3 separate regions of the Homo sapiens genome follow, and all the other regions are linked to region 1. Evidence: fine-mapped expression QTL. A gene starts in region 1. Each other region holds a variant in brackets. All regions are shown on one strand. Distances are between the middles of the regions.

Region 1 (10,140 bases):
ACCACACCAGGCTAATTTATATATATATATTTTTTGTAGAAACCAGGCTCTCCCTATGTTGCCCAGGCTGGCCTAGAACTCCAGAGCTCAAGTGATCTCCCCACCTATGCCTCTCAAACTGCTGGGGTTACAAATGTGTGTCACCATGCCGAGCCATGAGAAACAATTTTTATTTTATTTTTAGAGATGGGGTTTTGCTTTGTTGCCCATGCTGGTCTTGAACTCCTGGGCTCAAGCGATCTGCCCTCCTTAGCCTCCCAAAGTGCTGGGATTACAGGTGTGAGCCACTGCACCTGGCTGAGAAACTTTTATTTTAATAACGTATTTTTTATTGTGGTAAAATATACATAAGATGAAGTTTGCCACCTTAACTATATTTAGGTGTATGCTTTAGTAGTGTTAAGTACATTCACAATGTTGTGCAAACATCACCATCATTCAGCTCCAGAATGTTTTCATCTTCCCAAGCGAAAGCTCTGTACTCACTTAACAGTACCTTCCCATTCCTCCTCCTCCTCCCAAGGCCCTGACAATCACCATTCAACTTTCTGTCTCCACACCTTTCACTATTCTAGGCAGCTCATATAAGTGGAATCATAGTTTGGACTCTTTGTGATTAGCTTATTTCACTTAGCATTACATCTTCAAGGTTCATCCGTGTTGTAAAATATGCCAAAATTCCCTTCCTTTTTAAGGCTGTGTATTATTCTACCATATATATATATATATATATATACAGTAGAATATTATATATATACACATACAGACCACATTTTATTTATCCACTGATGGACATTTGGGTTGCTTCCAACTTTTGGCTATTGGGAATAATGCTGCTATGAACACGGGTGTACAAATGTCTGTTCTGAGTCCCTGCCTTCAGTTATTTTGTGTATATTCCCAGAAGTGGAATTTTGGATTACACGGTAATTTTATTTTTAATTTTTTGAAAAAACACCACACTGTTTTCAACAGTGGCTACAGCATTTTACATTCCCACCAGCCATGCACAAGGGTTTCAATTTCTCCACACCCTAGCCAAAACTTGTCATTTTCTTTTTCTCTTTTTTTTTTTGAGAGGGGGTCTTCATCTGTTGCCCACGTTGGAGGAGTGCAGTGGCACAATTTCAGCTCACTTGCAGCCTCGACCTTCCAGGCAATCTGCCCACCTCTCAGCCTCCTGAGTAGGTGGGACTACAGGCGGGAGCCACCATACCTGGTTAATTTTTGTATTTCTGTTTTTTTGTAGAGATGAGGTCTTGCCATGCTGCCCAGGCTGGTCTCAAACTCCTACACTCAAGTGATCCGCTCAGCTCAGCCTCATGAAGCTCTGAGTTTTCAGCCATGAGCCACCCACCATGCCCGGCTGCTTTTTTTTTGAGATGGAGTCTCGCTGTGTCACCCAGGCTGGAGTGCAGTGGCACGATCTTGGCTCACTGCAACCTCTGCCTCCTGAGTTCAAGCGATTCTCCTGCTTCAGCTTCCCGAGTAGCTGGGATTACAGGCCTGCACCACCACACCTGACTAATTTTTGTATTTTTAGTAGAGACAGGGTTTCACCATGTTGGCCAGGTCTTGAACTCCTGGCCTCAAGTGATCTGCCTGCCTCAGCCTCCCAAAGTGCTGGGATTACAGGCATAAGCCACAGTGCCTGGTCACTGTTTTTTTCTTTTTGATAATAGCCATCCTAATGGGTGTGAAGTGGTATCTCAATACGGGTTTGATTAGCATTTCCCTAATAACTGATGATATTATCTTCATGTGCTTATTGGCTATTTGTATATCTTCTTTTGAGAACTGTCTATTCAAGTTATTTGTCTATTTTTCTGTTTTGTTTCTTTTTTGAGACAGGGTCTCACTTTGTTACCTCAGATAGAGTACAGTGGTGAGATCATGGTTCACTGCAGCCTCAAACTCCTGAACTCAAGTGATCCTTCCACCTCAGCCTCTCTAGCAAGAGGCTAATTTTTTGCTTTTTGGAGAGACAGGGTCTTGCTGTCTTGCCCATGCTGGTATTTGTCCATGTTTTCAATCAGGTTTTTTGTTGTTGTTGTTGAGTTGTAGGCATTCTTTTTTTTTTTTTTTTTTTTTTGAGATGGAGTCTCGCTCTGTCATCCAAGCTGGAGTGTAGTGGCGCAATCTTGGCTCACTGCAACCTCCGCCTCTCAGGTTTAAGCAATTCTCCTGCCTCAGCCTCCTGAGTAGCTGGGACTACAGGCACACACCACCACGCCCGACTAATTTTTGTATTTTTAGTAGAGATGAGGTTTCACCATATTGGCCAGGATGGTCTCGATCTCCTGACCTCGTGATCCACCCACCTCGGCTTCCCAAAGTGCTGGGATTATAGGAATGAGCCACTGCACCCAGCCAGGTATTCTTTATATAATCTGGATATTAACTCCTTATCAGATATGCGATTTGAAAATATTTTCTCCATTTCCTGGGTTGCCTTTTCACTGGATTAATAGTGTCCTTTGATGTACAAAATTTTAAATTTTGATATAGTCCAAATTATTTTTTTCTTTTGTTGACTGTGCTTTTGGTGTCATATGCAAGAATCCAATATCATGAAGTTTTCCCATATTTTCTTTACTTTTTTTTTTTTTTTTTTTTTGAGACGGAGTCTCACTCTGTCACCCAGGCTGGAGTGCAGTGGCGTGGTCTCGGCTTACTGCAACCTCTGCCTCCCAGGTTCCCAGGTTCAAGAGATTCTCCTGCCTCAGCCTCCCGAGTAGCTGGGACTACAGGCACGTGCCGCCACCACCATGCCTGGTTAATTTTTTGTATTTTAGTAGAGACAGGGTTTCACCATGGTGGCAAGGCTGGTCTCCATCTCCTGACCTTGTGATCCACCTGCCTTGGCCTCCCAAAGTGCTGGGATTACAGGCTGGAGCCACTGTGCCTGGCCAATTTTTCTTTCTTTCTTTTTTTTGAGATAGAGTTTTGTTTTGTCGCCTAGGCCTGGAGTGCAGCGGTGTGATCTTGACTCACTGCAACCTGCGCCTCTAGGGTTTAAGCAATTCTCCTGCCTTGGCCTCCCAAAAAGCTGGGATTACAGGCATGCGCCATCATGCCTGGCTAATTTTTGTATTTTTAGCAGAGACAGGGTTTTGCCATGTTGGCCAGCTGGTCTTGAACTCCTGGCCTCAGACAATCCGCCTGTCTTGGCCTTCCAAAGTGCTGGGATTACAGGCATAAGTCACTGTGCCTGACCTCCCATATTTTCTTCTAATAATTAATCTATTTAACATATTAAAATAGTGAGCATTCAAACCATCACTTTATAGATGTCACATATTATTTTTAAAGTTTTTCAAACTTAAGATATTGAGAATTTAAATAAATATACTATGTAAATAATAGGAGAGGTTTAGCATACATCTTGCAGTTAGTACCCAAGTGACTGATGCTTGGTAAATACTGTGCTAAGCTAAACTGCATCCTTCTAAATATACCTATTGCTGTATCTCATTCCTAAGCTAAGCAGTCCCCCCCCCAGTACCCAATGGTTGCCTCATGCATCCATTTAAGAAAGACAGCAGACCAAAACTGGAGTCACTAAATGCTAAGGATTCATGCTACCAAACTGAAACCTGGGTTGCTTACTTGTAAGATCTTCTGAGAAATCAGGAGAGGGATGAAAGCCAAATTACATTACACCAAGATTTCGTCTACACCTCTATAAGGAAAGTAACCTTGAAATGACTGATCTGCTATTTGTTCATTCTTCCTGCTTTCCTCCACTTTTTCCTGCCTGTCAAACTCACCCACTCGGTCCTCATTGGAGCACCTTTCTATCTTGTAGACTGCCTGGTGCATGCAATGCTATTAAAAACCAATCAGATCTTTGAAACTAAATTTGTTGAAATTTTGTTCTTATACACATCTGAAAAGCAGCCATCAGTATAAAGGCCAGCGAATCAAAAGTGGGTAACAAAGCAAGTCATCTAATCTAAACTGCAAGACAAGCATTTTGAGAGGCCTACAACATACCTTATTTTCAATTCTGAAATGCAGAAAGTCCTCCAAATTAGTTTTTCCCCACGCTTGGAGTAAACTCATTTGAACTGATATGAGACTATTTACAACCTTTATTTATTTATTGTATTTATTTTATTTGAGACAGGGTCTCACTCTATTGGCCAGGCTGGAGTGCTGTGGTGTGATCACAGCCAACTCACTGCAGCCTCAACCTTCCAGGCCCAAGCAATCTTCCCACCTCAGCCTTCTGAGTAGCTGGTACTACAGGTGGGCGCCATAGTGCCCGGCTAATTTTGTTATTTTTATTTTGTAGAGACGGGGGTCTCACTGTGTTGCCGAGGCTGGTCTCAAACTCCTGGGTTCAAGCAATCCTCCCGCTTTGGCCTTCCAAAGTACTGGGATTACAAGCATGAGCCACTGTGCCTGGCCCTATTTACAACCTTTATATATCCCACTTAGGGTGAATATTTGTGAATACTCACACATTTCTGCTATAGAAACATTGTTTGACTACGGGGGCATACAATATATCTCACCTTTTTTAAACATTCAAAAAATTCTGAATTTCACAAACACATCTGGCCTGAAAGGTTTTTGATAAGGGACTGTGAATCAGTGGTGGCATAATTAGTCTTAGGAGTACTAACTAATAGGAGAAATGTTACATTTGTTAAGTACTTAGTTTGTGTCCAGCATTGTTCTAAGTATCTTCTAGGTAAATGCCTCATGTAATCCTCACGATCTCTATGCTTTATCATCCTATCCTTTATAAATGAGGAAACTGAGGGAGATTAACTATTTAATTTGCTGAGGATCATGCAGCAAATAGCCCGAAGAGGGATTCATGCGTTTCACCATAATGGTTAAGAACAGGGCTTTGTCAAAGGATACCTTCAACTGCAGCAGAATGATGGACTCAAATCACAGAGACACGACAAAGTGACGGGTAGTCAGCTGTGGGTTGGTTCAGAGGCTCAGGCTGTTCCGGCTCTAGGTGATTTCCTGCTTTCCTAGGGTTCCCACCAGCTGCCCTCATGGTGACAAAAAGGCTGCTGCAGCTCCAGGAAACTTACACTGGGCAAGGACAACAGGAAGAAAACAGCCCCCACCCACCCAACTCCCCTTTTAACTAGAAGATCTTTCCCGAAACTCTGCCTCAACAGACCTCGCTTACTTCTCCCTGGCCCGTACTAGGTCGTGTACCCATCGTTAGCCAATCGCTGGCAACGGATTGGCCCCGTTTTAATTTATCCAAAAAAGGCGCCAGTCTGGGCTGTTTGGAGCAGTCAAGGGAGCTCCGTGCTAAGGCAGGAGGGGCCTGGACATGCGGCTGCAGGAGTCCGGGCCTCGGTGCCCTAAGATGAGGGCTCAGTGGTGCTCAGCACCGCGCCGGGCCAGAGACTGAGCCGCCGCCGGCTGTTGAGGGTTGGTTGGCTGAATCCCCGGCAGGGGCCAGGCGGAGCGAACATCACCGCGGCAACTGCCTCCACAGCACACACTCCCGACAGTGGCTGCGCTTTTCCCCTTCAGCACAGCCCAAAGGCCCCGGCAGCTCAGCACCTGCGACCTCCTAGTGCCCTCCAGCCTACGGAGGAGTAGAAGTCCTTCCGGGGCCTCCCAACCAGCAGCCACCAGCCACCAGCCACAAAAGCCGTGAGCCGCGCGGGGCTGGCCTGAAAGCTCTGCGTCTTCCCACCGCGGCAACAGCAGCTCCCACCCGGAAGCGAGGCAGCCCTGCGGACCACAACTCCCAGAAACACCCGCTGTCTCGCTCAAGCTAATTGACCCGCTGCGCCATCTATTAGCCAACCAGCCACAGGGAGACGGCTCCCCACGAGGCCTAACAACCAATCATAAGACAGAGGAGGCGGGCGCTCCTCCAGCCGATCCACGGGGTGTTGTCAAAAGTTTGGCGGGATCCTGAAAGAATGCTTTCTTTAGAGCCCCACGGCTGCTCCTGTGAAGGGAGAAGCGACAAGCAGAGATATGCAGGGACCTCTCTGCGAAGTAATGACTTGGGGCAGACGGACAACGCCCACAGCATCCCAATAGTCTCAGAAGACTCTGGTCTCTGCTACTCCTGCCTGCGGTCCTCGCCTTGGTGCTCTCGCGCTTCCCGCGGCGTCCCGCCCCTCCCTCTCCTTATTGGCTCCCCAGGGCCTTGTGCGGAAGGGGGCGTGGTGCGCGGGCCTCGGCCAGGCCTGAGATGCCGGGAGGGTTTGACCCTGGGGCTGCATGGACAGCTTAGCGCTCGGCCGCTGGCGACAGCGGAGGGCGGAGGATCTGCAGGTTCCGGGGGACGTGGTGAGCCCCCGGGGCCTGGGCGTTAGGGACGGGAGGGCGGATGGCCCCTGGGCGGGTTCCCACCGCGCCTCGTTTTTGCCGGCGCGGCCCTGCCTGTGAGGAGGCCTGGCCCAAGACACTCGCACGCTCGCGTACGTCCCTGGGAGGGCGTGGCCAGTGATGGGCGTGGCCTGTTAGGGCGGGGTTGTGACGCCGCTCTCCCGGTTTCGCGCCTGCGCGGTCGGGCGCGGAGCTCGGGCACCTTCCTGACCCACACGCTCACTGGGGCTCCAGACCCAGGCTCCCTAAAACATGGGCCGAGACTCATTGCAGGACCTCGGGTGCTTGGTATCCGTGTCATGTCTTCTCCTGCCGTCTACACCTGACTGTTCCTGAGTCTCGTTCACTGAGCGCCTGCCACGTGCCAGGCCCAGGGCTGGGTGTTGGGGGACGAGTACGTGGGGAGCGAACACGCGCAGAAAATTACCCGGCATTGAGCGTGTTAGTGCTTCTTGGGCTGAGTCCATTAACTGATGAGCAGAGGGTAAGATGAGATGGTAATGGGGAGACTTGCACAAGATCCCAGGGTGCGTGGGTAAGTCAGGTATGTGTGAGACTTGAAGGATGACCGGGGGTAGGCAGGATGGGAGGTGACAAAAAACAGTGTTGGAGGAAGGAGCTTAGCGTCTTAGGGGCACTGAAAGAAGTACTGCAGGATTGGAGCTGGAAGACAGAGCTGCTTGGCATTCCTGTATTTTATCTTCCACCTCTGCTTGCAAATTGGCCAGTTCTTACTTAACCTCGTTTATTTCAAAGTTCCTCGCTAGGGGCAGCAGTGAGCAGCCAACATACCGCATATTTGCTTTTTTTTTTCTTCTAGAGCTACACAGGCTTGGTAAGTGCAGGATCCGTCTTCCCAGTTAATACAGGCAGCATTTTTTTAGATGTCTTTACTGCGTAGCGGGAATGACTAGCTTTCTACCCTGCACCATCTCTTTCCTCACTACTCACTGCCTGGCCGTGAAGCCAGTACCACTTAGGTTTCTATCACAGCCGCACCCCTCCTCCAGGTACCAATTGTTATATTACTAGGGTGCAGGTTACCCCAGTAATATAGTAATAATATGGTATAGTAATGTAGTATAGTAATAGTATAGTACAGTAATATAGCAGGTTAGGGTGCTTTTGTAACCAAGAGCCTTCAAAGCACGCTGGCCCTAACAAGATGGAAGTTTGATTCTCCTGCACAGAACAGCATGGACGTGAGCAGTCCAGTGGGGTGGAGCCCAGGGTCACTAAATATAGGCGTAGGGCTGGTGGTACCCAGATCAGGGGATATGCGGGGACCTAAGTTCCTTCCCCTCACACCATCCCCTGGGTGTCACCCTCCTCTGCATAGCCAAGGGTGGCTCACTGCTACTGTGCTACCAGATGGCAGAAAAACAAACAGAAAAGTGACATGATTATGCTGATGTGTTGAGACCTTACTTCACTGCCCTGGAAAATGAAAGGTGTGATCAGGGTGCAGGCAGGGAGGCAAGGCTTGTGGCTACAGTAGTGTGTCAGAGGAGAAGTGGCAGAGGTTTGCACAAGAGAGGGCAGTGGGGTGGTGACACTAGAGAGACGTGACTGTGTAGAGGGAGAGCAGACAGTCTCACTGATGGAGTGGCAGTGGCAGGGTAATGTGAAGAGTGGAGTCCAGGGTGTTGTAGGGGTTGACTTGAGCCCTGCGAGGGCAGTACTGCTGCTCCTTGAGAGAAGAGTGGTGTGGAGGCAATGAAGAGCTCCTGTTAGGCCATGCTGTGTTTTCTGCGACTTTGAGACGTTTAGTGGAGACGTGGCAAATACTGCTAGTGATTGAATGGTTATCATGTGGATTATCTGAATTTCTTTAATCAACTAAAATTTATTTAAGCATAAAGTTACTTTCACATTTGTCTACACCTACAGTAAATACAGTTGTTGGCATAAAGACACAGCCTTTAGAATTTAAAGCCTCCCCACCTGCAAGATTACATACGTAAAACTCCCACTGTTGTTTCTATAATAGTGGATTAATCAAATTAAAATAGTTATACTATCGAATAAAATACAATGGAAATAATTTACTTATAAGATTCATATTTAAATCATCCTTATTTACAAAATACTATCCTAAGAATTATAATTCCATTAAGTTTCAATTTGAGCAAAAGTGTAATCACTTAAGTAACAGCAGTTACTTGAAATGAGATCAGTCAGAATTACTTTTGAAGAGAGCAAAAATATTGCCAGGTATCTTGCTGCGGTTTTGGATGTTCCGTAGCAGGCTCATTTGAAGGCGGAATCAGCCCTGAAGGGAACTCACTTCTACCTTCAGAATGTGGGGGTCGGGGGAAAAATCCAGGTCTTGGGGGAGGGTAAGGAGGAAAACCCCTCGGTGGATAGACATTTCTCATTGCAAACGGAGCATGTGGTGGACCTGGGAAATCCCCTGGTGGAAAATAATCTCGAGAAGCTCCAAACCTGGTTCCTGGAGGAGGTGGGGGGAAAGGAGGTGCTCTTCTCATGAACGGGCCCCTTGTATCCACTGGAAACAGTGGACCTCTGATTAGGGCAAGAGGTGGAGGAACAAAGCGAGGGCCAGTTGCTGCATTTTCAGCAGGGAGAGATGAATCAGGGATATTTAAATTACCAAGATCATCTTTGGTGTCATTTCTACTGGATTCCATTTCTGAAGGCATTGACCCATCCATTTTATCCAAAGGAGGCATATTAAAACTTCTGAGTTCTGCTGGTCCAGACAGTCCACCAGAGTTAGAATAAAATCTGTCTTGCCTTTGTGGAGGAAGAGCTGAATCAAGATATGATTGCGCTGGTGGAGGAAACATCATCCTACGGTCCTGTTCCCTCGGAAGTGACAGGGACCCAGTGTCAGAAGGAGACCTGTGAGGATCGGTTAACCTTTCACAGCTTGATTCTCCTCTTTCCTTGGTAATCTGATGGTCCAGAGGATTCCCTGGGCCTCTTGAGCCTCTTCCTTCCCCCCCTGGAGGCAAAGGTGAGAGTCTGAGTGGACCCTCCAACAGAGTTGCGGGAGAGAGAAAAGCTCTCGTTTCAGATGAAGGCCGACCCAATGATGAGGGACCATATGGGGAATGCTCTCTGCCAAATGCTGTATTTGGAACATCAAGTACATAAGGATCTTTTTTTAGAAGTTTTATTTTATACTCTGTTTCAGCTAATTTTTGTCTGTTGTGAGCATTTTCTTTCCTTAAATCATTGAGGTTTCTTTCAGCAGCCCAAGCTGCCAACCAGTTATGATGTGCCTTTTTCTCATGGGAAATAATCTGCCGTTGATAATAATGAATAGTTCTCTCCAATTCTTCTTCAAGATCTTTGGCTCGCTGTCTGTAGGTCTCCAGCTCTTTAGTGGCATGGCTGATCTTTTTGTCTACCTTAGAAAGTTTCTCTTCTTTCTCTAACCGGCTATTTTCCTCTACTGTTAATTTCCTGTAGAGTTTCATTTCATTTTCTTGATATAATTCAGTCATTACTTTAAGTTTCTGTTGAAGCTTCTGATTCTCACTTTCAAAATGTGTGTTTTCTGACTGCAAAGATGCTTGTTCAGTCCGAAGATTTTTAATATGCTCTGTAAGCTCTTCCTTTGTTTTATCAATTTCAGGTAACTGGATATAAATTTGGTTTCTTTCTCCTTCTAAGGTTTTTAAAGAAGCATTTAACTTAGTAGCATGAATCAGTTTCTTCAGAGCTCCTTTTAGAGGATCATCTAAGTAAGCACCATCTTCTGATTCACTGTTCACTTCTAAGTTATCATCATCCGTTACGTCTTCTCTAAGCCTAGCAGCCCAATCTTTCATCTTTAGCAAATGT
Region 2 (10,140 bases), 64 kb after region 1:
ACATTTTGCCACTGCCTGCCCATAGTTCCTCTGTATACACAATTCATAGAAATGTGCAAGACTCTGCCCACTTGGTATTCCTGTTTGGCTGCAAAGGTTTACTGTACGAATGACCTCCACCACTACTCGACTAGAGTTAGCTGTTTGGAAAACATTCTTAGAACATGCATTGTTTTTCTCTTCAGAGTGAATGCAAGAATTTTCAAATGCTCTACTAATAATTTTCTTTATCTTCAAGGGTACTGAGAGGACCATGAAAGAGTAACGCTGATTAGTTGACCGATAGTCTTATTCACTGGTGTCCTGGTCTAAGCTCTTCCTTTAATCCTGTACTTTTATTAAAATAGCTCCTGATATTAAAATAGGCAGCTTACGTTTGTGATTAGATAGGTACAGTAAAAGTCTATGATGACAAGGTGAGGGGGTCCAAAGATTCAGCTGTGTAACCTCAAGTGTCCTATGGGGCTGACGCAGGCTGGGGCAGCCTCCTCAAAGCTGGTCTGGGCGTGAGACCCAGCTTGCACCTCACGTGTCCTGGCTGTGTCATCTGGGGGCAGTAACTATCCCGGGGATGCTTCTGGGTGTGGGGGACTGTGCTTGGTGCTCCCGGCTCCCATGGCTACCTTCTCCAGAGATCGCCCTGGTGGTTCAAGCTGCCTCACCTGGAGGTACCTGGAGTCACCCTCCATGATTGGGTGGCCCAGGGGTGACCGCTGTCCTGTGTGGGGTACATGGACCCCCACTTCTTTGCCTCAAGGAGCTCCATAGAGCAGCATGTGACCCCCATCGGGCTCCCGTCCAGGTTCCTAACCCAGGGCAAAAGTAGAGAAGCTATTTTATACAGGCCGGAAGGATGTATGGTGGTGGCCTCCTGAGGTGGGGGCGGGAGAGGGAGATGAGACTCTTAACTAGGTGGGGGCGAGAGAGGGAGATGAGACTCTTAACTAGGTGGGGGCGGGAGAGGGAGATGAGACTCTTAATGAGGCAGGGGTAGGAGAGGGAGATGAGACTCTTAATGAGGCGGGGGTAGGAGAGGGAGATGAGACTCTTAACTAGGTGGGGGCGGGAGAGGGAGATGAGACTCTTAACTAGGTGGGGGCGGGAGAGGGAGATGAGACTCTTAATGAGGCAGGGGTAGGAGAGGGAGATGAGACTCTTAATGAGGCGGGGGTAGGAGAGGGAGATGAGACTCTTAACTAGGTGGGGGCGGGAGAGGGAGATGAGACTCTTAACTAGGTGGGGGCGAGAGAGGGAGATGAGACTCTTAACTAGGTGGGGGCGAGAGAGGGAGATGAGACTCTTAACTAGGTGGGGGCGGGAGAGGGAGATGAGACTCTTAACTAGGTGGGGGCGGGAGAGGGAGATGAGACTCTTAACTAGGTGGGGGCGAGAGAGGGAGATGAGACTCTTAACTAGGTGGGGGCGGGAGAGGGAGATGAGACTCTTAACTAGGTGGGGGCGGGAGAGGGAGATGAGACTCTTAATGAGGCAGGGGTAGGAGAGGGAGATGAGACTCTTAATGAGGCGGGGGTAGGAGAGGGAGATGAGACTCTTAATGAGGCGGGGGCGGGAGAGGGAGATGAGACTCTTAACTAGGTGGGGGCGGGAGAGGGAGATGAGACTCTTAACTAGGTGGGGGCGGGAGAGGGAGATGAGACTCTTAACTAGGTGGGGGCGGGAGAGGGAGATGAGACTCTTAATGAGGCGGGGGTAGGAGAGGGAGATGAGACTCTTAATGAGGCGGGGGTAGGAGAGGGAGATGAGACTCTTAATGAGGCGGGGGTAGGAGAGGGAGATGAGACTCAACAGCCACTGAAGGAAGGTGAGCACAACGGTCACCGTTTGCTAAGTATCACAAAAGCAAAAGCAAGTATGACCAAGTGTTAACAGTTAATTCTGGTGAGAACATGGATGTTCGCTATGTATTGTAGTTTTCCATTTTTTGTGTGTTTCAAACATGAACCTTGAATAAATGGCAAGTTGGCTTAGCAGTGGAATCTAAGGACTGTAATCACAGCCAGCGCTGCACCTGTCCACGCACGGGCCGGCGTGTTTTGCACGTAACAGCTCAGTGGTCCCTCCACAGCCTGAGATGGGACCATCATCCATGTTGGAGACAAGGAAGTCGGGGCACTGGCCAAGGCCACACACCTGCCTATGGCTGAGGTCAGTGCTCCAGCAGGAACTGACCCCAGACGGAGAGGCGCCAGGGTTTACATCCCGTGTTAAGAGCTGATTCGGTTGCCACATGCTCTTTATATTCAAAACAATCTCTTAGAATAATTTCTTAAATAGCATCTGAGAGAGAATGCATGCTTCTTTGTTTATGTGAAATGAACTCAGATGCTCCCTATGGTAATGGAGGTAGAAACGGCATGTATAGATGTTCAAGTTTCTTTAAAAAAACACATTGTTTTAAGGCCTTACTACCCGTTATTTTCCATTTTGCCTTTATTTTGTGACTAAGATGATTCTGATTATTTTATTTATGTATGAATGAATGGACAGGGTCTTGCTCCGTTATCTAGGCTGGAGTGCGGTGGAGCAACCAGGGCTCACTGCAGCTTTGACCTCCCATGTAGCTGGGACCACAGGCGCACGCTGCCACGTCTGGTTAATTTTTGTTGTTGTTCAGCCATGTTGCTCAGGCTGGTCTTGAACTCCTGGGCTCAAGTGATCCTCCCGCCTTGGCTTCCCAAAGTGCTGGGATTGCAGGCGTGAGCCACTGCACCCAGCTGAACCTATTCTTAATGAGCCTCAGAACTTGGGGAGCCACAGCCGCAATTCTGCACTTGGCCGGGGCCAGCGAGAGTGGAAGTTTGGGTGTGAGCGTGGCCCATTCCTGCTTCTCAGTCATGCGCCTGCAGCCTGCCAGGAATGTCTCGCCCAGGCGGGTCCCACCACCTGTTTTCTGTTTTTGAATCCTGCCCCGCCTCCCGTTTTTCCATTATGGCTGATGATTTTCTCCTGGGTATAAAAGCTATCCATGCACACTGTCGAGGCCCTGAAAACACAGAACACTTGGAGATGAGATTTTAAACCACTCAATTTCATCACCGATGGTTTTACAGCCATCGGTGTATTTTCCTCTTTCTCTCCTTTGATTCTGTAGCAATACCATCTACAAGGATAGAAATTCAAATTAACATCTTGAATTTTTCATTTAATATTTAAGTCATTTCCTTTGACTTTTAAATCTCCCTAATTGTTATTTTGGTGAGGTCTTCCAATTCTAAAAACCCAGACTCAGTCCTGCCGGTGGAATGGTCTCCCTCAGGACTCAAAGCGCCTCTTTCTACATGTTGTCTGCAAAAGAACTGTCACTGGTAGCAGCGACAACAAAGTGACTGCGAAGTCAGCGTGAGTTGGCCACAGCGTGAACCCAAAACCCCTGTAGGTTCCCTTATCAGGACCCACCTTTGAGCACCCACCGGTCTGAGTGGGGGCTCCGGTCCCCAAGCCCCTGCCCAGGACCAAAGGGTACTCAAGCATCTTCCCGGGGCTGGTTCAACAAGGGCCCCTCCAGGTGGAGGCGATCTGGCTGGCCCAGGGGCTGCCCGGTCTGCCGCACACCATGCTTGTCCCACCCTGGATGGCACCCGGGGCATGTTTTCCACTTGGAATCAGTCGTTTGGAGCTCCGGCTCTGAATAAATGAGCCACAGAGTCACAACACAACAGGGTGGCGAGGGGCCCCTGCACAGTGTTCCCTCCAGTGGCAGAGGGGGAGCTTGCCCGAGCCCCCATTGCTCAAAGATGCCTGCTGTCTCCATGATCGCCACTGGATGATTTCCCTGTGGATGGAGATCCAACATAGGAGGTGCAAACGCATGAGCCCAGGTGCTGCACCTGACATTGCAAAGGAAGCCCGGGCAGTGGGCTGGCAAGGAGCACAAGCTGGGGCTTGTCTCTCAGGGGTAAACCTGGGATAGTGCTGAGAGAAGGAGCCCCGGAGTCCTAGGGGCCAGCTGCGGCCTTGCACATTTCAGAGCGTCTGCATTTGGTTATATTAAGAAAATGGAGCTGGGCACGGTGGCTCACATCTGTAACCCCAGTGACTGGGGAGGCCGAGGTAGGAGGATCCTCTGAGACCAGGAGTTGGAAACCAGCCTGGGCAATATAGCGAGACCCTATGTCTAAGAATAAATAAATAAAACTAACTGGGTATGGTGGCGCATGTCTGTACTCCTAGCTGCTTGGGGGACTGAGGCGGGAGGATTGTTTGAGCCCAGGAGTTCAAGATGACAGTGAGCCATGGTTATACCACTCCACTCCAGCCTGGGAGACAGAGGAGATTCTGACTCTTAAAAAGAAGATGTCTCTCAAGCTCATGGCTTCCTCTGCATTGCGTGGTCTACAGGAAGACTTGGTGCACCAGAGTATCTGGAGCTTTTGTAGCCGTGGGGCTAGTAGGTGGCCCTTGGAGCCTAAAAGTGACCGAGGTCCCTGCACGTCTCAATTCTTTGGGCTCCCATGGATCTGGAACAGCTGAATCCACTTGCCCTGTGACGTGAGTTGGGGACTTGCAGGGACCCTGGTGTCCCAGCAGAGGGTACTGGGGACTTAGGCGAGTGTGTATCCAGCCAGTCACAGGCTAGGTAATGATGGGGCTAAGGAGGGGGATGGCAGAGATTGGGCGCCCCAGGAGAGAGGGAACCTACTCTCAGCCAACCTGGCCAGTAGGAGGGGCACCCACAGACTGGGGCTCTTACCCTCTGTCAAGGCAGGTGGGTCCAGGGAGGGACCACAGCCAGGTCATCTTTCCCCTGGGCCTGCTGTCCTGCAGCTGTAGGGGTGAGCTGGACAGCTGACCCCCAGACAGCCGTCATATATCCACAGAGGGCTGGCAAGCCTGCTGTCCTCCCCTTCCTGCCTCCTCCTCCCTGATAGCTTCCATCTGTCTGCTTACTGGGCTCCAGGGCACCAAGATGATAGGGGGCCTGTGATGCCCCATGACTGGGATGAAGTCCTGTGATGAGCCACAGAGGCAGAGGCAGGAGACAAATTGCAAATAGTATTGAGGGGGAGACACTTGGACCAAAAGTCAGGCTGCCAGACTGGAGCACTCGATTTTTATCTGGGCTTCAAAGGCAAAAACAGCTGGCCTCCAGAAAGGAAGCACATCTGTGCTTTAGGGGAAGCCACCTTACTTTCCTGGTGATAAATCCGAAAAAAAAAAATGTTTCCAGTGGGTCTTTATGGAAATGACATTGATGGGAGGAGGAGAAACCTGGGTTTGGGCATCTCTTATGGGCACTAGAGGCCAAGGCCACCATGTTAAAATAGAAGGATGTGAAAGTATGTCTCAGGGAGCTAGGGTCACGTGGCCTGGGTGTCACCTGTCCATGGGTTTAGGGACAGGAGTGAAAGAGAAGGTGGACCCCTCATCATTCAGCTCAGCTGGCTTCGTCCGGGTCTGACCAGCTCTGGACGCAGGAAGCCTGGAGTGCGGGGGGCCTTAGTAAGTTACTTAGTGCAGGAATCCAGGAATTTGAGAAAGCGGCTGCAGGTTGAGAGCTGTGGGCATCATCAGGGCATTAAGGCAGCCTCAGGGAAGGTGGGCTCTGGAGGCTTCCCTACCAAGTACGCAGCCCCGCTCAGTGCCTTACACAGACCCTCCCGCCCCAAGCCCTGTGCTGATGCTGGGGCTGAGAGAGAGCGAGGGAGCAGACTGCCTTTATTTCCCTTGCAATAACAACAGGAACAAAATAGCTTCACTTCCTACCTGCAGCCAGT[A/G]CTGTAGCACTTTACTCCATGGAAACTTCATCCCCACGGCAACCCCATGGGGTCCACACCAGGCTCCCCTGTATGATAACACCAGGTCCAGAGCAGCTGCAGAATGCACCCAGTGCATCCGCCAGGCTCACACAGGGGATTGGGTGGCTGCTTTTGGAGCCCATCTGGATATTGGCAGGAGCCTAGACCAACCTCAGTGCCGTGATGTGACAAGCCAGCTGACCACTGTGGATGCGAGACACATCTCTTCCAGTGAAACACCTGGATTATAGTGTGAACGCCTTTCCTTGCAACTGAACAACCGTACTGTCTGTTGACTAGAATACAGAACGTTAAAAAGCAAGTGTGCACGCTTACACACACACGCCTCAGGGGTGGGCTCACACTGCCCACTTCCCCACTCTGTCACCCCCAGAAAGGTCAGGGAGCTCCCCCTGGGGAACGTGACTGGCGCCTCCTGGGAGAGTTAGGCCTAGGCGCTGCATAGACGCACGGATTAAATGAACCTCCGCGTGCAGGTGAGCGGGCGGCGTGGGCGAGCTGGTGGCCTCAGGTGCATGGCCCAAGGCCCCTCCCAGAAAGGACACGCCCAGCCCGCAGCGCGGAGACGGCAGTTTCCATATTTAAAGGAGCATGGCCGGCTTCCTATCTGAAGTGTGTTTCCCCGGAGAGACCACCACCATTTGATCTATTTTTGATTAAAATGTAAAAATTAAAAATTAAATCAAATGGTAGCATAACTCCTCGGGGAAAACACACTTCGGTTATGAAGAATTCCCTGCAGTAACCCCGAGACTCTTACGGCAGCATTGTCTCGTCTGTAGGTGGTCTTTTTATGTCACACATAATTAAGAGGAATTGCAGTGAGAACCACCGAAGACTGCCTTCCGTGTGGGGTCCCGCAACTGGCGCTTCTGGAGCAGGTCCCGGGGGAGGCGCTGGGCGGGGGAGCGGCGTGCACAGGTGGGGCTGCCCACCTGCAGGGAGCCCGAGAGTGCGCCCTGCGCCACCCATTGCCGTGCCCCCGCGTCCCGTCCCTCGTGTCCCACGCCGAGCCTCGCCCCACCCGCTCCACCCCACTCCGCGCCACGCCCCGCGCCCCACTCAGGCCCCACTTAGCACCTCTCGCCCCACTCCTCGTGCCCTGCCCCTTCCTGTGCCCCACGCCACGCCCCGTCCCACGCCCCGCCCCATCCCCATGCCCTGAGCCACTCCCTGTTCCACGTTCCGTCTGCCCTGAGCCCTACCACGCGCATCCCTCTGTGCCACGTGCCCCACGCCCAGCCCCACCTCCCATGCCCAGAGCCCCACCCTGGTCTCAGTCCAGCACCTCACGCCCGGCAGGTGAGGTCGCGTACTCGGAAGGTGGCTCCTTTCTCCCCCGCACGTGGCAGGCACGTTCTCCACACGACGGATTCCCCACAACAGCCACGACCGGAGCCATCAGACTTCCTGGGAGTGGAAGCCACAGGTGACACGGACCTGACTGCTCCTTAGCTGAGCCTCGAGTCGAGGCAATCGCATTTGCTTCCACGTTTTCCCGCCCGCGTGGCGGGACGTGGCTGTGACTTTCTGAGTCGTGACTTCAGGTCCAGTTGTGTGGGGTGTGGCTGGACATACCATGGCAGCCTATTGACACCTTGGCTGCATTTATTTTTTGACATCTCTGCTTCAAACGAAAATGCCAGAGAACAGAAACGTTCCCGGAACGAAGGTCTGGAGGCAGCTCCCAGGGGCGCCTCGCGGTTTTGGGGCGTGGCGCTCGCGGGGGGCGTCCTGGGGGTGCAGCTGCAGTGCTGCGGGGCGGGGCGTTGCTGCCACTGTCTGCGGGGCACTGTGGGCGGGGCAGCAGAGTTGGGGCTGTATGGTTCGTCACCTGCTAGTTTCAGTCCGAAGACATTTGACGCCTGTGCGGGTTTCCTTTTCTGTTGCCAAAGGTTCTGGAAGCAGGACCTCGGAGTCGGGAAGGAAATGCATTTCAGGAGCCGGGAAGAGCAGGCCCCGCCGACCTGCAGGCAGAGGGCGCAATGCCTGGCGAGGTGCCTGCCCAGAGCCTGCCTGCCCTGCAAGAAAAAGCCATTTGGAGGCGCCAGGTGGCCAGTACTGGGACAAAGCTGTTCCTTGCCCTCAGGAAAGCCAGACCCACGCTGGGTCAGGTCCTAAACTTTCTCCATGGGGTGGGTTTTGTTCACCTCCACAGGCAGTGGGGGCCCCTGGACCCCAGAGAACAGAGGGGACGGGGGGACAGGGCAGGAGGGGCCGGTAGGGAGGCATCGGGGTGTGGCAGGCACTGGAGCATCAGCCACATGCCAGTGATGGGCCGGTAGACCTGAGCTCCAGCCTAGGTCTTCACCTCACTGAGTAAGGACCCTGCTTGCAATCCGCACACCTATGCGCAGGGCTGGGCATTGCTGTTGGTAGTAATGGCCTCTCTGTTTGCACCTCTTGTCCCACAAGCCATAGGAAGCCCTTTCTGGGGTACACAGGTGGCAAGGGTACATCCCCAGAGGAAGTCTGGACTTCCCAAGGCTGACAAGTGGTCCGTTGACAAATGGATCCACCGGGTCATCTGGTTCATGATTTCCCTTCCATCATGCTGGCAACTTGCACGCACCCCTTCCATCAGAAGCCAAATGGGATTTAAGAGCCAAGCATCCCTTTCCCTGACTTTGCTCATCTGCAGCTGGGTGCACTTTGTAGCCCAGCGTGATGCCTTTCCGAGCCCTTAGCAGAGTGACCAGCTCACCTCAATGAAACCCCCTTCCTCAAAGACCACACCCGGGGTTCCCAGCCCCTGGCTCCCTGGCAGCCCTGGCTGGAGCAGAGCCTACCTGGCAGGTAGATGTGGAAGGAAGGAAGAAAAGCAAGCCTGGGAGTGAAGGGAAGCCCAGGCTGGGCTGGGCTGGAGGAGGCGTCATGGGGTGCAGCCAAGACCTCTCCACTTTCCTCCTCCAGCCACATCCGCATATCCTATTTCTTAAGTCACAGGGGATCTCACCTCCAGTTCCCAGCTCGGCCCCCATCAGGCTCAGCCTGTTCTCAAATGTCTCGGTCACTTTTCCCGCCAAGGCTTCTCCTATCACAGTGCACCAGTGGGTGGCTCCTCAGGGGCAGTCCCCAGACAGCATCCCCACAGCCTTGCAAGCTTTCCTGACCAGGTTCACATGTTGGCCTGGTCAGACTGGAGGAAACCAGCTGTCCCAAGCTAAAGTCTTCTCCTTCTTTACCATCTCTCTCTCCCTCTCCCTTCCTCCCTCTCCCTCTCTCTCTTTCTCTCTCTCTCTCTCTCTCTCCCTGCCATGGTCTGCAAAGGCCCCTGGGCACTGTCCAGGTGCCCAGGCTGAGCCCCAACCCTAAGAGTGTCACCTCTGTAATGTGCAGAAACTAAAAAGCCTCCCATCATGACGAGCTACAAGTAGGTTCCACCTGCAAGAGGCGGAGCTCCACATTGCTGGGGCATCTGCTCGTTCATTTTGGTTTAACTGTCAGGATGGACGGTGCCCTTGTTATGCCAAGGCAGGGCATAAGCACCTCTGGAACAGTGGGGTGGAGATGCTTCAACTTCTGGAAGACCACACCCCTCGGGGAGAACATCTGGGTATCAGGCACAGGAAAAGGCATGTCTGACTCAGCGGGAGAGCAGGGCACCTGGGGGTGCTTATGGGGTTTGTTCCCCCAACCTGCCCCTTGGTCTGGGCGTGAGTGCCATGGTTGAGGAGGGGAGAAGAAGACCAGGGCTGACAGAGGGGTTGGGGAGAGACTTTCTGCTGCTGGAACGAGCAAAGTTGCTGAGCTGCCCAGAGAGAGAAGCACAGTACAGAGGGGCGGGGCTTTTTCCCACCTGCCCGTCTTGGTAATGGGCATCTTGTAAAAATCATACTTTCCAGTGGGTTATGGCTGATATTTAGGAGGACTGTTAGATTTGGTGTGTTTTGTGTCTAGCCAGCTGATAACCTTTCCAATTTGCTTTAATATGTTAACGCGTTCTCTTCAATTTTCCAGGAATACCAGCATGTTTATAAGTAATGATGATCAATTTTTTGCCGTATAACTCCTTGGGAAAACACACTTAGGTTATGAAGCATTCCCTGCGGTAACCTTGAGACTTACGGCAGCATTGTCTCATCTGTTGGTGTTTTAATTATATCAGCTGCTTAACTTTCTTATTTTAAAAAACATATTGTTATGGAAAATTCAAACATACTCAAGCATGCTAGGCCAGTGAGCCTCCACGCCCCTCACCCAGCTGCAGTGAGCATCAGCGTTTTGCAGGCTTGCTTCCGCACTGTCTCCGAGTTTTTTCCTGGAGTGTATTAAGGTAATCCGTAATTCCACCTTGAATACCTCAGTATGTGTCTTTAACAGATAAGGGTATTTTGCCACGACTGATACACACATTTAACAA
Region 3 (10,140 bases), 39 kb after region 1:
ATTTGATTAGGGTTTTTCCTTTCTTTGTAATTCCCCAAGCTTGCCTCTGTTATGTTTCGTAGGAAATGAATCTATGAGCAGAAAACCTTCATTGATATGTAAATATCATTTTTTTGTTAATACTCAATATTCTTTTCATCTAAATTTCAGAAACTGACTTTAAAAAATCAGTTTCCTTTTATTTGTAGTTATTCTCAATAAAATTTCACCCAGGCTTGGGCGTTTTAATATTTACACCCACTACTTCTGAAAGTCTAATGTAAATAAAGATTGAAATGTGAATTTGAAAAGTCACACCTCTTGATATTTGAACAGACTATAGCTGCATATATCTTCTTCTTCTAATAATATGGCTAGTTTCTCTCCTAAGCTTTTAAAATAATAAGACACTATTTTTGTATTATAAAACATCAAAAGGTTCAGTGTTAAATAAAAAGCAAATAGTATTTTTAGAGATGCAAGATCCCTGGGAGTCGTGCTTAACAATAAATCACCAATGGGGCACAATTCCAAATTTCAGAAGACTTTATTAAACTTGCAGTTCCATTCACAAATGCCTGCTTACACGTGGGCCTGCCCACTCTCCCATGATGCCCGTAGGCAGCTCAGAATGGTTCTCTTGGTCAGAGAGAAGCCAAGGTGATGTGAGGGGTAGTTTGTGTGGAATTCCTAATGGGAAACTTACATGTGATTCTCAGTTTATTTGGTGGCTGTTCTCCAGTAAGCTCCCTTGCATCCTGAATTCTCTAGTGTATTTTTGACCTTCGTAGGATGTCAGCTAATCTGATCTGTTCTGCTCTGAATTCTCAGTATAGCCGTCTGAGCTTGGTGGTCCTTCTGTTCCTAAGCTTTTCCTTATGTTTATGATTGAGTTGTTTCTCACACATACAGGGTTTTGACATTTTCTCATATGCAAGGACTTCCTCGGTAGACCTCTTCAACCTCATTTTCCAAGTTTGCATTTCGGTCTATTTCTGTTGACTCATTCTGGCGTATTGTAACCATTGTTACAATGGTTACTATTTCAGGAGTGACTGAGGTGGTTTCTTATAGTAATTACTGTTAGGGTTTATCTCCTGCTGTACATTATTATTTAGGACCGTCACCTCGTAGCCCTGAATCACCCTGCTCATGTTACTGATGATCGAAATGAATGTGGTGGGACCCAGTCTTGCAGCATCAGGGCGTCCGCTCCTGCCCAGGGTCGGGCTGCTTGCTCTCCCTGTCATGTGCTGTCTGGGGCTGCAAGTCTCGTAGAGGATGATCGCCATGGCTAGGAGGCTTCCTTTCCTGCCACCAATGGCTCCCATGCTGGACAGTCACCTAGGCTGCAGGCTTCCATTCCCGGATCGCGCGGCTTGCGTGTGCACAGGCCACACGGTAACCAAGTGTGAAATGGAAATGAAGCTGCTCCTTGCAAATTCAGAGCAATTAAATGAAACCTTAGGGGTCTGCCAGAGGTCTCCAAAATAATCAAAAGAAGGTACATGAAAAGGGGAGGAAGGCTTATAAGGCAGAGAACTGTAGAAAGGATTTAGGATATTGGTTGAGGGGAGATATGATGATATTTCCTCAGCACCGTGTTTTCCTAGTGGTCTCTGGTCTCTGACGTTTTGTAGCCTCTCAGTGCTGGAATCCTCTGGAGAAGGGGCCACCCTCAGATCTTACTGGGTCACTGGTCAGCCTGTTGCCTGTTTTTTTCTCAGCTCCGACCTCCTTTGTCTGCCCCTCCTCTGTGTTGTGGAGACTGTTTCCCAGACTCCTTTGCTTCTGACTTCTGGGAGAATCCAGCCAACGTGAGGCATTGGTGGGACACAGGAATGTGGGGGAGAAGGAGGAGGAGGCCAGAGCATTTCTCTCTCTCTCTAGCCCTCCCGCAGTACATAGCTCCTGCAGAGTAGTCCCTCTGGGCCCATCTCTTGCGAGGTCCACCTCCTCCTCCCTTTGTCCTCCTGGTGAGTGTTTGGCTCCTGTAGTAGTCCATTTTCACATCGCTATAAAGAACTACCTGGTGCCTGTAATTCCAGCTTGGGAGAATGAGGCAGGAAAATCGCTTGAACCTGGGAGGTGGAGGTTGCATTGAGCCAAGATTGCGCCATTGCACTCCAGCCTGAGTGACAGAATGAGACTCCATCATTTCCAAAAAAAAAAACAAACAAACAAACAAAAAACACACACATACACACACAAAAACTACCTGAGACTGGATAATTTATAAAGAAAAGAGATCTAGTTGACTCACAGTTCCACAGGCTGTACAGGAAGCATGGCTGGGAGGCCTCAGGAAACTTACAATCCTGGTGGAAGGTGAAGGGGAAGCAAGCATGCCTTACCATGGCAGCAGGAGAGAGAGAGAGCGCCAGAGGGGAAGTGCTATGCACTTTCAAACAACCAGATCTCATGAGAACTCACTATCACGAGAACAGCAAGGGGAAGTCCGCCCCCATGATCCAGTCACCTCCCACCAGCTCCCTTCCAACATGTGTGGAGTATAATTCCAGATGAGATTTGGGTGGGGACACAGAGCCGAACCATATCAGCTCCCCCGTTTGGCTTCTCATCTCTTCCATCATTTGTGTAGCCAAATCTTGTTACAGTCCCTCTGTTTGAAATATACCTAGATTGGTTTCTGTTTTCTTACCAGCGCTAATCAGCTAATGAATGGACAGATTCTCCTGGGGAGGAAAGTTGCTGTTTCTAACAGAGGTCTCCGGGCCTGTATTGTCCCCTGCAAGGGCTCAGTCAGTAGTCCGCAAGCTTGGCACTCCAGAGTGCTGGCAGGGCTGATCCTGGTGATAAGCCACATGAGTCCCGAGAGCCTGGACATGAAAGTTAAAAATACAGTCAGGCCCTTCAATGTTGCCCATCGCTAATGCTCCTTCGCTGCCTTTTATCTGTGGTTATTGGTTTTTATTACTCAAACGGGTAGGGAGTTACCACTGAAAAGCCAGCATGCAAAACATGGTGTTTCCTGGTGCCATGGAGTCTCCGCTCCCCACGTTGATTCTGGATACCAGCATTGTCATTAGCCTTATCTTTTTTTCTTTTTTTTTTCATTGAGGGCAAATAGCAAAGGAGCAGTCTTAATAAGCCTCCGTATTATTCACTTTTTGACATTGAAATCTATTGCCTGACAACATTTGTGTGTGTGGTATATATGGTGTGTGTGCATGTGTGTGTCTGTGTACATATGTAGTGTGTGTGCATGTCTGTGTGTGTGGAGTCAGCCAACGTAGGAGTAGAAATTGAGGGCAGGGGAAGGGAGGTGTTTGGTCCAAACCTATTGTTTTGGTTCAGTTTTCCCTTGTAGGGACACCAGGAGGAGCCAAAGTATGATTATTCTGATTCTAAATGGATGCATTTTTTCTTTGTATTTCTTTTTATCTCCAAATGGGTTACCTTTAAAGTATTTCTGTTTATTTTGTTTACATATTTGTACATTATTGGTCATTGCTTTCTACACCTACATCATCTATAAATACTGCACTAGAACAGGAAGCCTTGGAACCCAGTGATCTCTGCCCTCCTCTGGTGCCTGCAGTGACGGCTGAGAACACTGCCTGTGCTTGCTAGGGCGGGTCCGAGTGTCAAGCTGGGGACGGGACCAAAGATGGAAATGTAACGTTCTGATATCGATGAACAGAGATCGATGCGCAGTGCCCTGCTCTTTGTGTCCTGTCTCGGCCACAGCTGATAGCAAGCATCCTTGTCAGTTCTTTCTTCTTCTGTCCTGAGAGAAGAAAACACAATCATGGAGGGATCAACGGGAACTTCATTGATCATTCTGTAAGAATCAAGTTGTGCTCCATGCATTTCTACCCCCAGGTTTGTCAAGGATCCTGGAGTTCATTGGTCTAACCCTGTCAATTTACAGATAAGGAAAGTGAGGTCCCCAGGGGCTAAGCCATTGGACTGCCATGCACCGTGGTTGATGGGGAGGCAGGGGCCTGAGCACTCTGCTTGGAGCCCCCTCTGCTTTCTGCTCTTTTTGGCTGATCAGTGTGTTTGCAGTCAGCATGCCGGCATCACTCCCCAAGACTGGCGGCCCAGCGTCAGGCTCGAACACCCTATGAGAACTGTGGCAGTGACAGTGCGGGTTTTTGTGGACTTCATCCCCGGACACAGTGAGAAGCTCTTGGCTAAGACACAGGGCTGATTTACTCACACTGTGAGGGAATAAGCTGGGAATGGAAGAGTCTGGCTGTGTCAGTATAGCCAAATACGAATCCCAGAATAGATGGGTATGAATAGACCACTGACAAAATCTTCAGATTTAGCATCTAGCAGTAGCTGACAGTGAGTACTTTCTCTGGAATATGGATATTGAAAAACTACCTTTAAAAAAATTTTTAACTGTTATTTAGGTCATTTTCTGGCACTGAAGGAGCTGAGGGGCTTCAGATGACTAGAAGAAAAAAGAAACAAGTTCAATTTAGACTTCCTACAAACATGTTAGATAAAACCAACACAGATGTGTCCCCCTCCTGCTGCAGAGACTCAAGGTAGACTCTGATAAAAAAAAAACACACAGCTGATCA[C/T]GTAATAGGCGAAGAGAGAAAACAAAAGTAGTGCCGTTGGGACCAACACACTCTTTAGTGGCCGTTCCTGGGTCTGGGTACTTGTTGGGTTTGGTCCTAGATTGCACCCAGGGCTGGGAACTGGAATGCTCACGTCCAGAGATAGATGTGGTTTTGGCCTAACAAAGGTGTGGGAGCTAGAATTTGGATCCTTGCATAAAGTTTAGAGCCTGAAGATCTGATTGTACCCTAAAAGGGGACTGGAAATTACAATACCAGGCCATGCATGGGTATGGGCTCCAAGTTTATTTTATCTCAGTCATACAGGAACCAAAAGTAGAAGCCCTGCCATAAAAACAGTTGCAGCCCATTGAAGTCCTGAAGGCCTTGGGTGGCAGCAGGTGCAGAACTGTCCTGTAGGCATGCCTCCACCACCCAGTGTGTAGGAGATTTGGAGATAAAACAACCCCCACGGAGGATAAGATCACACTAGAAAAATAAGCACATAAACAAATCTACCACCATGGTGAGAAGAGGGGTCAAGAAATAAACAGTAGAATCAAAGTCTCTAACAATCTGAAATAATTGAAGAACCTGAAGGTGGATATAAAGTACGGGCACAACTCATTTTATTGCACTTCACTTTATTGTGCTTTGAAGGTACTGTGGTTTTTACACATTGAAGATTTGTGGCAACCTTGCATTGAACAAGTCTGTTTGGTGCCATTGTCCCAAAAGCATATCCTCATCTCATGCTTCTGTGTCAGCATTTTAAAACAACAAAGTATTTTTAAATTAAGGTGTGTACATATTTTTAGGCAGAATGTTGTTGCACACTTAATAGACTACAAGCATATTGTAAACAAAACTTGTATATGCACTGAGAAACCAAAAAATTTGTGTGACTCACTTTATTGCAGTGTTCTGCAACCAAGCCTGCCATGTCTCTGAAGTATCCTGTAGTTATTTTATAAAATGATTAAAGAAGAAATAGAGCCATAGTAAGAAAGGAAGACAGTTTGAAAAAAAATTGGAAGGTTTTTTTAAAAAGAACTAAAAGTGCATGATATGTTCATTGAAGTTTTTTTAAAAAGTCATCAGATTAGACACAGTTAAAGACAGAATTAGTGAATTAGAAGATAGAGCTGGATAAATCCCCCAAGCACAGCAAGAGAGATAAAAAGATGGATAGTATAAAAGTGTAATTAGGAGTCATAGAGGAAAGAATGAGAATGCCCATTAGGAAATCCAGAAGGAAGGACTTTAGAGAATGTTTGAGTAGAATAGTTGAAAAGATAATGGCTGAGAATTTTCCAGAATTGAAGAAAGGCATATGTGGTCAAACAATTTTGAAGTAGAATAACAAGCAAGGGAAATTATCCATCAGATATCAAGATATATTACAAAGCTGTGACCATTAAGACAATGTGTTAATTGGCCTAAGTGTAGACTAACCAATGAAATAAAATTGAGATCTTTAAACATGCATATATGGCAGTTTGAAGGCATTATAAATGAGATTTACATACACCTATAAATTGTGCCAGGGCAATTAGTTATCCATATATGAGGAAAGATAAAATTAGATCTCTGCCTCACACAAAATCAATTCTAGGAGGTGGGAGGTGGGGGTGGGAGTTAATAAGAACCTATATATGAAAGAAAAACCTTTAACATTGTTAGTAGAAAATATAGAATATGACGGCCAGGCGCGGTGGCTCATGCCTATAATCCCAGCACTTTGGGAGGCCAAGGTGGGCAGATCACCTGAGGTTGGGAGTTCAAGACCAGCCTGACCAACATGGAGAAACTGCATCTCTACTGCAAATAAAAAATTAGCCAGGCATGGTGCATGCCTGTAGTCCCAGCTACTCGGGAGGCTGAGGCAGGAGAATCTCTTGAATCCAGGAGGCAGAGGTTGCGGTGAGCCGAGATTGTGCCATTGCACTCCAGCCTGGGCAACAAGAGTGAAACTGTGTCTCAAAAAAAAAATATAGAATATAACTGTATATATTAAGACATGCTACATATCAGAATTCTTTCATCATTGTCTAAGAAAAGCTTTTTGCAGGAAAGATATTTACAATGCACAAAATATAAAGATGGGTTTCTTGAATAAATATGCAAATCAGTCCAGTAAATAAATGGGCAAAGTATATGACCTGGCAGTTCAGAGAAGAGGAAACCCAAAATAGCCAATAAATATAAATAGGTGTTCAACCTTACTAGTAATTTAAGGGCTTGCAAATTAAACCATCAAATTAGCAAAAATAAAAATGGTGCTATAACTGTGAGTGAGGTAGAGTGAAAGGATGTGTTCACTTCCTCAGAAGCCATGTACATGGGTAAAGCTTATGGTGGGCATTTCTGGTAAGCTAGAAGATATGGTCCTAGGTGTATACCCTAGTAGATGCCCAAGAAAGTGTATACAAAATATTTGTTGTATTTGGGAGGCTGAGGCAGGCAGATCACTTAAGGTCAGGAGTTTGAGACCAGCCTGGCCAATATGGTGAAACCTCATCTCTACTAAAAATACAAAAAACATTAGCTAGGCATGGTGGCGCATGCCTGTAGTCCCAGCTACTCAGGAGGCTGAGGCAAGAGAATCACTTGAGCCTGTGAGGTGGAAGTTGCAGTGAGCCAAGATCCCACCACTGCACTCCAGCCTGGGTGACGGAGCAAGACTCTGTCTCAAAACAAAACAAAACAAAATATTTGTTGTTGCACTGTTAGAGTAAGAAAAGCCAGAAACAACCTAAATGTTCATCAATAGAATGAATAAATGAATTGCAATAGATTTACTCAATGAAGTGTTACAGAGAGCAGTGAAAATGGATCAAATCAAATGGAGAAAAAAGGAAATTACAGAAGGATCTACGTAGAATGATACTATCTAGATACAATTTTAAGCATGGGAAACATTGATATATATCTACTAAAGGAATAAAAACATTTATGAGAGTGGTAAACAACTTCAAAATAAGGGCGTTATTTCTACTGAGTGGAAGGGCTCAGGGTGCAGTGTTTTGGTGATATCTAATGTTTTATCCCCTAAGTTTTGTGAGTCTTGGGTGTGATGTATCCACACATAGATAGGTCATCATGACACTGGAGGACATCAAAGGCAGAGAAACGTGTAGAGCTGCTAGAGAGAAATGACTGGCTAAGCATGAAGGGATGATAATTTGACAACAGATCTCTCATTAGTAGCAATAGATGCCAGAAGAGCTTGGAATGCATCTTTGAGCTGCTAAGGGGACTGCACTGTGACGTGCATGTGGACAGGCTGCACCAGGTCCGGGGGTGCGATGGCCACTGCAGTGGGGTTCCTCTCCCCACCCCAGAAAATTCAGTTACCAAAACTGACTCAAGAACAGAGAACAGAATCAGATCAGTAACAATGGAAGGATCTGGGAAGGTTATCAAAAAGCTCCCATCACAGGGATTTTACAGATTTTAAAAACCCTGTATGAAAGAACACATGGATGATTTAACATTAGAAAAATGACTGCATTGTCTGATAAAAGGGAAAATAGAGATCATCTGTTACATGCAGCAACAGCATACAGTCAGATGCGAATCCCATTCATGATATATATTTAAAAACTCCACAAACCAGAAATAGAAGGCTTTCTTCTGGTAAAAATTAAGGACGTGATACTTAGTGGAAGCATCTGTGTTGAAGAGAAAAGGACGAGGATGCTATTAGCACTTCTGCTCGGTATGCTAGGGCTCCTAGCTGGCATAATGTGATAAGAAAAAAAAAAAGAAACAATGGACATAAGAATTGGAAAGAGAAAAATCTAAATTGTTATTTCCAGATGGTATAATTATCTACATAGAATATCCAAGGCTGACCACAGTGACTCATGCTTATAATCCCAGCACTTTGGGAGGCTGAGACAGGAGGATTGCCTGAGCCCAGTAGTTGGAGGCTGCAGTGAGCTATGATTATGCCACTGTACTCCATCCCAGGCAGCAGGGTGAGACCCCATCTCTTAAAAAAAAAATTTTCCAGAAAATCTGCAGATAGACTAGTAGAACTAATATCCAGCAAGATTGTTGAATATAAGATGAACACACAAAAATAGATAGACTCTTACTTACTGGTAACAGTCAATTAGAAGAACAAAACTCCATTCACATGGTTGCAGCGTGAGGATGTAAGTTACTATCTAGTGTTCTGTATTTCATCAGCATTTCTTGTAAGGCAAGTCTTCTAGCGACAGATTTTCTGTTTTTGTTTATCTGGGGATGTCTTAATTTCTCTATCATTATAATTTCAATGTCGTTTGGTTTTGTTGGATATTGAGGAAAGGCATATGTGGCCACATGGTTTTGAAGTAGAGTAACAGGTGCTGACAGTCTTTCTTCTGGCACTTGGAGTATGTCATCTGGCTGCCTCTCACTCCATGATGTCTGATGAGAAATCAGCTGTTGGTATCACTGAGGCTCACTTGCACATAGTATGTCGCTTCTCCCTTTCTGTGTTCAAGATTCTTTGGTTCTAGATCACTTTGTTATGATGTGTTTAGGTGTGGATCCCTTTGGGTTCATGCTAGTGGAAGTTAATTGAGTTTCTTGTATATATAGATTAATGTTTTCAAATCAAATCTGCGAAGTCTTTGGCCATTATTTTAAAAATACTCTTTCTGCCCTTTCTCTGTGTCCTTTTCCTCTGAGACTCCCGCTTAGAGGTGTGTTGGGACACCTGATGGAGCTGCACAGGTGTCTTCGAAGCTCTGTTCATTTTTCTTCGCTTTTTTTTTCCTGTTCCTCAAACTGGATAATCTCAATTGATTTTGTGTTCACTAGTTCTTTCTTCTGCTTGCTCAAATCTGCTGTTGATCCCCGTTAATGAGTTTTTAATTTCACTTATACTTCTAAACTGTAGAACTTCTGTTTAGTTTATATGTATAAAATTCTCTCTTTATTGATAATTATCTATTTGGTGAGACATCATTCTGCTTTTCTTTAATTCTTAATCATAATCTTCTTTTTTTTTTTTTTTTTTTGAGATGGAGTTTTGCTCTCGTTGCCCACGCTGGAGTGCAATGGCATGATCTCAGCTCACTGCAACCTCCGCTTCCCAGGTTCAAGCGATTCTCCTGCCTCAGCCACCCAAGTAGTTGGGATTACAGGTGTGTGCCACCATGCCTGGCGACTTTTGTATTTTCAGTAGAGATGGGGTTTCACCTTGTTGATCAGGCTGGTCTCAAACTCCTGACCTCAAGTGATCCACCCACCTCGGCCTCCCAAAGTGCTGGGATTACAGGCGAGAGCCACCGTGCCCGGCCATGACCTTCTTTAGTTCTTTGACCATATTTAAAATGGCTGAGGTGAAGTCTCTGGTAAGTTCATGTCTGGGCTTTGTGTTCTGTTTGCCCTTCCAGGTCAGATCCACTGCCCACCTTTCCTGGCATCTGCACAGGAGGCCAGCCTGCATGGCTTACATCCAGGGGGTGCCGGGGGCACCTGGGCTCTCCCACTTCCCTTTGGGCTCAGCCGCTAGGGGGATTTGGGGCAGGCAACAGGAGGCTGGAGAACGAGGGCAGGGTATGTGGCCATGTCCCCTGGCCAGTGTCACTCAGCAGCATGTGTCATCTCCTCCTTCCAGGTTCTG

Evidence for each region.
Region 2: its variant is fine-mapped to the expression of C10orf143 in whole blood (TOPMed, PIP above 0.99).
Region 3: its variant is fine-mapped to the expression of C10orf143 in whole blood (TOPMed, PIP above 0.99). The same link has a PIP of 0.9 or more in atrial appendage, caudate, fibroblasts, pancreas, stomach and subcutaneous fat.

The regions. Positions count from the first base shown.
Region 1 is chr10:130,106,852-130,116,991 of GRCh38, reverse strand. It overlaps C10orf143 (chromosome 10 open reading frame 143), which reads left to right and starts at 6,162. Exons shown (of 4, transcript NM_001355042.2): 1 at 6,162-6,288. The coding sequence starts at 6,220. LOC102724883 (a long non-coding RNA gene) reads right to left here and starts at 5,699. Exons shown (of 3, transcript NR_188169.1): 1 at 4,876-5,699; 2 at 3,610-3,674. It also overlaps the pseudogene CTAGE7P. RefSeq lists enhancers at 4,858-4,987, 5,468-5,797, 6,658-6,837, 6,998-7,107, 7,698-7,957 and a silencer at 6,088-6,467.
Region 2 is chr10:130,042,885-130,053,024 of GRCh38, reverse strand. It overlaps a transcript of C10orf143 not described here. Among named protein-coding and RNA genes, the nearest start is that of C10orf143, 63 kb to the left of the region's middle. RefSeq lists enhancers at 3,155-4,039, 8,153-8,652. The variant A/G (reference allele first, on the strand shown) is at 5,736.
Region 3 is chr10:130,068,004-130,078,143 of GRCh38, reverse strand. The region is part of intron 3 of C10orf143 (chromosome 10 open reading frame 143); the gene reads left to right. Among named protein-coding and RNA genes, the nearest start is that of C10orf143, 38 kb to the left of the region's middle. The variant C/T (reference allele first, on the strand shown) is at 4,539.